Linked DNA regions of Homo sapiens. The protein of the gene in region 1 purifies or fractionates together with the protein of each later gene. This does not show direct contact. Each region holds a gene or a part of one and is shown in the gene's direction. Other genes may lie near its edges.

Evidence for each region.
Region 2: the proteins of IGFL1 (region 1) and NPTX2 purify together in Homo sapiens (affinity purification with mass spectrometry; one large-scale study listed by BioGRID and IntAct). This does not show direct contact.

The regions. Positions count from the first base shown.
Region 1 is NC_000019.10:46,228,306-46,232,038, forward strand, and holds IGFL1 (insulin growth factor-like family member 1 precursor), read left to right. Parts: upstream 1-1,436; 5' UTR 1,437-1,469; coding exon 1,470-1,494; intron 1,495-1,802; coding exon 1,803-1,856; intron 1,857-1,968; coding exon 1,969-2,212; intron 2,213-2,515; coding exon 2,516-2,525; 3' UTR 2,526-2,938; downstream 2,939-3,733. UniProt on the Homo sapiens protein: Probable ligand of the IGFLR1 cell membrane receptor.
Region 2 is NC_000007.14:98,627,071-98,630,469, forward strand, and holds the end of NPTX2 (neuronal pentraxin-2 precursor), read left to right. Parts: intron 1-94; coding exon 95-274; intron 275-1,331; coding exon 1,332-1,559; 3' UTR 1,560-2,799; downstream 2,800-3,399. UniProt on the Homo sapiens protein: Likely to play role in the modification of cellular properties that underlie long-term plasticity. Binds to agar matrix in a calcium-dependent manner.

The DNA.
Region 1 (3,733 bases):
TTCACTTAAAAATAACATTGTTTATGCCCAAGTAAATTGATTTTCCATGCTACTAGCACATCCTAATCTGTGTCCTAGAAAACACTGCTGTACCCCACAGCAGCAAGGAACAGAGGCCAAGGGAGCAGACAGGGAGATGGTGCTGGAAGCAGGGTCTGCTCTGTCGAGGGAGAAGGTGGGTGCTGAGCACTCTGGTATTTATTGAAGTCATTTCTCTGCAGCCTCTTCCTGTGTCTCCTGCCTCCAGAGAGAAGCCCCTATCCGTGCTCCCCAGGAACACAGATGCAGGATCTTCCACACACACAAATCTAACCACATCCATGCCCTGCTAGGAGCCAGCCATGGTGCCTAGAGGGTGACAGGTCACCTTGCCTGGCCCGGAGGAGAACGGCTTGTCCATGCCATGTGTGGCCTGTGAGCTTGAGCGGAGGAATTCCTGCAGAAGCTGGGCAGGGGTAGGGGGGCACAGAACTGACCCAAAACAGCTCCTTCCCCTCTGTCCTCACATCCTGACCCCAAGATGGCTCTTCTCAGGGAAAATCACAACCCAACCCTCTGAAAAAGCACATTAAGGAAAAACACCTTTGAGAATCTCAGGGGGGGATGTGGAATTTCTCCACCAGAACTTCACAGTGATAATGACACCAAACACAAGAACGACAATAACCAAAATCAGGAGTTTTATTCTCCTACCTTCTCTCTCTCTCTCTCTCCTCTCACTGTCATGAACGTCACGAAGACACTGACTTTGCGTTTTCTACTCAGCACTGCATCACTGGTGTCTGACACGAAGCCTGGGACATGTAGGCTCCCAAGTGGACCTGTCCTGGGTAAATGACCATTAATGAGACAGAGAAGGAGATGAAGAGCCCCCAGAGGAGTGTTGAGTCCCAGGGGTCCCGCCAGCTCCACTCCCACCTTCCAAACCTGTGAAAGTCAGGTGCCTGAGTCACACAGTCTCTCCCACCTGAATGCCATGAGCTGCAGGTGACTGAGAAGTTACTGGATTCTTGACCATGTGTTTCGGTTGTGAGGTTGGGACCTAATGGGACCCTTTGAAATGATGTCATGGGTTAGCAATGTCCCAAGGAAACTGAGGAAAGTCATAGCTCAGTAGGATCCTGTGGAATCGCTGTGTGGACATGTGAGTGTCGGAGAGTGTTAATGCCAGGAGCATCCTGAACCTTCCTATTTTCCAGAGGACTCAGTGTGGGGGACGATTGGGGCACATAGCACAGAGAAGGTGGAGGGTGTACCGCTTCTCTCCTGATTACAAAGGTGAGATCAAAGCTACAATGACACGTACCCTGCCTGGCACCTCTCCTGCCCAAGGACCCAGCCTGTCTCTGCAGGACTTGCAGGAGGGCAGGAAATGCCATGACATCACCAGCTCCACTAGAAATATGGGATAAAAGGAGTGGCTGAGATCTGCTGATCCCCTCCTCACTCCACTGCAACCACCCAGAGCCATGGCTCCCCGAGGCTGCATCGTAGGTAAGGAGGACAGGACCCCATTCCCACCTGAGCCCATCTCCAATCTCAGCCACCACCAGGGCTCTCTCCCTACCCCAAACTACACCTCATCCCTGTTCCCATGCCCAGCCAAATCTCCAGGCGTGAATTGCTCACAGCAATTCCCCATCCATAGTGCCCAGATCAGCCCCATCCACAGCCCTGTTTCAGTCCCTGAGCTGCTCAAAGCCATACCGAGCCCTGGTTCCACCCAGTCTTCTTCTAAATGTCAGTGCCAGTCATATCTGTGGCTGTCCACTCACCCCATCTTCCCTTTCCCTTTCCCACAGCTGTCTTTGCCATTTTCTGCATCTCCAGGCTCCTCTGCTCACACGGAGCCCCAGGTGAGCCCAGGAGTGTTTGGGAAGCTGGAGGAGGGGTACACCTTCCAGGGGACCCCAGGCTGGGACCCACCTGCCACTACCTCCTGGATCTCACCAGCTCTGTCTCCTCCAGTGGCCCCCATGACTCCTTACCTGATGCTGTGCCAGCCACACAAGAGATGTGGGGACAAGTTCTACGACCCCCTGCAGCACTGTTGCTATGATGATGCCGTCGTGCCCTTGGCCAGGACCCAGACGTGTGGAAACTGCACCTTCAGAGTCTGCTTTGAGCAGTGCTGCCCCTGGACCTTCATGGTGAAGCTGATAAACCAGAACTGCGACTCAGCCCGGACCTCGGATGACAGGCTTTGTCGCAGGTGAGTCCTGTCCCCTCCGTGGGATTGTGGGTGCAGGGTAGCTGCATGCCTGTTCTGCCCTGGGTGGAGCCCCCATTCTCCTTGTCTCCCTGTCTCTGCCCCCTGCTTCTATTCAATCCACCTCTCCCTTTCCCTACACCTGTGTCTCCATCCATTTTTATTTCCCTCTCAGAATCTCACTCTCTCTACCCCGCTGTCCTCTCCTCCTGGCTCTCCTGTCCTCATTTCTGCCCATGTTCAGTCTCGCCCCCATCTCTGGCCATCTCTGTCCCGCTCAGTGTCTCTCTCTGTCACTATCTCCAGTGTCAGCTAATGGAACATCAGGGGAACGATGACTCCTGGATTCTCCTTCCTGGGTGGGCCTGGAGAAAGAGGCTGGTGTTACCTGAGATCTGGGATGCTGAGTGGCTGTTTGGGGGCCAGAGAAACACACACTCAACTGCCCACTTCATTCTGTGACCTGTCTGAGGCCCACCCTGCAGCTGCCCTGAGGAGGCCCACAGGTCCCCTTCTAGAATTCTGGACAGCATGAGATGCGTGTGCTGATGGGGGCCCAGGGACTCTGAACCCTCCTGATGACCCCTATGGCCAACATCAACCCGGCACCACCCCAAGGCTGGCTGGGGAACCCTTCACCCTTCTGTGAGATTTTCCATCATCTCAAGTTCTCTTCTATCCAGGAGCAAAGCACAGGATCATAATAAATTTATGTACTTTATAAATGAATGCTGTAGAATTCATGAATTAGAGAGCTTGGACTGTTGAAAGGGGTCACAGAGGGTGACGTGGGGCCCCTTCTCTCTGTCACCCTGAGGCATCTGGGCCTTTCCATTTGTTCTGTTCGTGCACACACTTATTTTCTCTTTTTCCATTTATTTTTAAATTTATTATTTTGTTATTTGTGCTCGGTGACTAGGACCCTGGCCGCACCTGGGACAGGGGCCACCCTCCTACACCAGCCTCCACCACCCCATGGCTCCCTGAACCCAGTCACAACATCGGGAGCAGCCCAGGTGGGGTGGGGAGGAGGTGGGGATCGCGAGAGGGCTTCGGAGAGGCACTCCCTCTCCCACCAGTTCTGGGACAGAACAGGACCCGGCTGTTTGTTCTTGATGTACGTTAAGGAGATGCAGACAGACTGGGAAAGAACGGAGGTTCTTTCTCCAACTGGCTATGGGGAGAAGGTCAGAGTAGCTTACCAGACCAACTCAAAGCTACAAACTTCTTTTTCTAGTGCTTATATGCATTCTAAGCTCCACGCCTATGTGCGGAGTGCACCTGCAAGACAGCGTGTTTCATTCTTATCAATATCTAATCTTTAACTAGTGTCCAGGGTCTGGAAAGCTTTCTCCAGAGTCTTGGAAAGTTTCTTAATCTTAAATGGACCCCAGTATGAGGAATATGTGGAAGAATGCTATTATTATTTGATCAGATTTTAGGGTCTGAGAAAACCCAGCTGGGGTTTTAATGGGCTTGTTTTCTCATTCCCGCCCTCATCCCCAGGCACTAGTTTATCCAGTT
Region 2 (3,399 bases), on another chromosome or scaffold:
AGGGGGACTGTGGGGTGTCCTTCCTGCTTCCTGCCCTGGGGGACCCTGAGGGCGTGGGCCCAGCAGGTCCTTACCTGCACATTGCTGCTCACAGGTTGCGCAGCTGCCCCTGTTTGTCAGTGACGGCAAGTGGCACCACATCTGTGTCACCTGGACGACACGGGATGGCATGTGGGAGGCATTCCAGGACGGAGAGAAGCTGGGCACTGGGGAGAACCTGGCCCCCTGGCACCCCATCAAGCCCGGGGGCGTGCTGATCCTTGGACAAGAGCAGGTGGGTGCAGGGCAGGTGCAGGTGGGCACAGGGTGGGTGCAGGATGGGCACAGGGTGGCCGTGCGCCCTTTCAGGGATGGTGCGAGGAGGGGCCAACTGAGCAGCACGAGGCCAGGCCTGCAGCTGTTCCTGCTCCCGGCCCCAGCTGTTGGCCCCTCAGACCTGGCCACAGTGTCCTGACAGCCAGGTCGGGGGAGTGAGAACCCCCGCAGCCTGGCCCTTGCTGTCCTGTGGTTAGAGGTTGGGCGTGGGGTCACGGCCTGCATGGCAGGGACCAGGTGGGTGTGTGGTTCAAACAGATTCCAAATAGAACCTGGCACAGAGGGGTGTGAGTGTCCCTGTGGTCATGGGTCATCTCGTGACACAGGCTCCAGCTTCCATCTGGGAGGAGGCTGTGTGAGGGACCCTCCTGGGATGCTCATGGTACCAACTCAGGATTGTGGGGCTGGTGTCTTCCAGGAGCCCCCTGCTCAGGGTCTTAACCCTGATACCCAGCAAGGGGCACTTAGGTAATCCATAGTGGGTGCTCAGCCTGTGGGGGAGACAGGGATGAAAGGGTGGCACCTCAAAGTGCCCTCAAGAAACTTACCATCTAGGGGAGGGAATGGCTAAGTTGGCTGTCTGGTCTAGGACAGATAAGTGTTGGCATTCCAGTCTGTATTTGGGTTTTTGATGATGGACAGTGGGGCGTAGACTCCAGGTGCACTGGGGGGCTTTGAGTCTGGTTCCTTCTTGGCCCACTCCTCCCTCAATTTCCCCTGCTACATCTCCGCTGGGAGGGGCTGGGAGTCATGAGACCTGGCTCTGATCCTGGCTTTGGGACTTTGAGCAGTGTCTTCCCTTACCAGCCTCAGTTTCCCCTGTATAAAATGGGGAGATTTGAGCGATGCCACCTCCCAGTTCTGACATGCCTGGGAGCTTCAGAACCTACAGAAACAGGTAGTGTTGGTCAGAGCTGGGGGGCATCAGAGAAATGCCCAAATCTCCTGTCTGCAGCCCGTGTGCAGGGGGACTTGTGAACCAGCCCTGACGCAGCTCTCTTGTTCCCATTCCCCAGGACACCGTGGGGGGTAGGTTTGATGCCACTCAGGCATTTGTCGGGGAGCTCAGCCAGTTCAACATATGGGACCGCGTCCTTCGCGCACAAGAAATTGTCAACATCGCCAACTGCTCCACAAACATGCCGGGCAACATCATCCCGTGGGTGGACAATAACGTCGATGTGTTCGGAGGGGCCTCCAAGTGGCCCGTGGAGACGTGTGAGGAGCGTCTCCTTGACTTGTAGCCGCCTTCTCCTCTGTCCAGGAGGCCGGGATCAGGCTGTTGCCATGGAAGTTCAGGGCCATAGACTGCCCCACTTAAACTCTTGTCAGTCTGGGCTCAGGGTTCCCAGAGCTCATTCCCCAGGAATCTCTAAGACCAGGGCTGGGGCAGTGTCTGTCACTGGCTTGTTTGTTCCCTACCAATATTCTGTTGCTGTTTGAAGTAGTGCCAGGGTCCCCTGGGAAGATGCCCCCAAGACACCTGCCCCAAGTGGGTGGATATCTGCCTTCCTGCTGCAAGTGGAGGCAGGTCCAGCAGCCCCTCTTCAGAGCCCCTGTAAATGCTATCGCAGCCTGAGTCCTGCCGCCTTCCAGTTCCTTGGTGTCCCGTGCACCCCTTCTGTCTGTCCCCTTTCATGGCTGTGCAGCCGTCCCGCTGGAGTGGCCATGTCCCTTGTGCATTGAGTGCATCCCCGCTGGTGACTAAGCTCGCAGCAAGCGGCTACCCCCCGATCTGCAAAAGGGCCTCTCCCTTTGTGTTCTATACATTGTGAATCTTCCCGTCTGAAGAACGCCCAGCCTGCCCAGACAAAGCCCCGCCTTCCCCAAAGCAGAGGGGCTGTCTGTGTCTCCAGAAAGGGGACATCGGGGGGGAGGGGGGCTCAGAAAGGAGAAGGGCTGTGATCTCCGGTCCCTTCCCCCATCATCCTTCCTTAGACTGATGCTTTGACTGAATCATCACTAGCTATGGCATTAAAAGGCCTCTCTTCTCATCTGGTGCCAAAGGTTCCGTTGCAGCTTTTTACAACCATCCGGTGTGGTTTGGAGGATTTGTTTTTTTTTTTTCCCAACAGAAAAGAACAGCCATTAGAAGAAGGCTCCCATTTTCTGATGTTCCGCCCCACTGTGAAGAGTGTGCTCGTTTTAAATTCATGTTGATTCTTGTAAGCACTGGACTGTCTTCATCAAGTATTTCCCTACAGAACTCCTCAAGAAAACAGAGATCATTTGGCTAGAGATTGTCTGAGTGACTCCAAGCTACTCACTGTATTGGACGGGAGTAGTAATTTATTTTAAAGATAAAGTGACTAAGTGGGGAAATTTATAAAGCTAAATATTATATATTTTATTTTTCATACATGTTTGAAGTGCAAATCTGTGGATATTCCATTTGTAGGACCAAGTCGACATGCCCATCCTGACATTGTATGCTACGAGAACTCTTCTGATGATGGAATTTCGATTAAAGTGCACTGAAAGATGCTTCTGTGTTTGTCTTCCTCATGTTCTGGGGCTGAAGGTGGGAAGGGGTAGGGCTTTGCAACTTCTGGCAGAAGGATGATGTCTCTGGTTTGCCGCAGCCTGCTTCTGGTGGGTTTGGGGGCGCTGAGGATGGTTAGAGGAGGGTGTGGTCCAGCTGTCCATCCTTCCTATTTCAATGCCTGGCTCAGGCTGTGGGTGCCTGGCAGGCTCTGCCCAGGCTCCTTGTCCCCAGCTCACCCCTGTCTTCTCAACCAGGAGAGCCAGCTTAGCTAGAAGACCTGCGGCCGCCTTCCAGGTGTGGTACCTGCTTAGCGTCTACTCTGTGTAGGTGTTCTTTAGACATCTCATTGAATCCTCCCTGAATGAGCTAATCCCATTTTACAGGTGAATACACAACAATTAAAGCTATTTTGGGATCATGCAGCCGATAGAGGATAGAGCTGGGCTCAAAGCCGTCCTGTGGCTCTGAGGGCTCTGTCCCTTCCACTGCTCACTCCAAGGGGCCCAGTGCCATTGTGTCCTCCCAGATCCGCCTCTCTGTGCTCACCTGGCCCTGGCTGGTGCGTTGATGGTCTCACAAGCATTAGATCCCCCCCACCG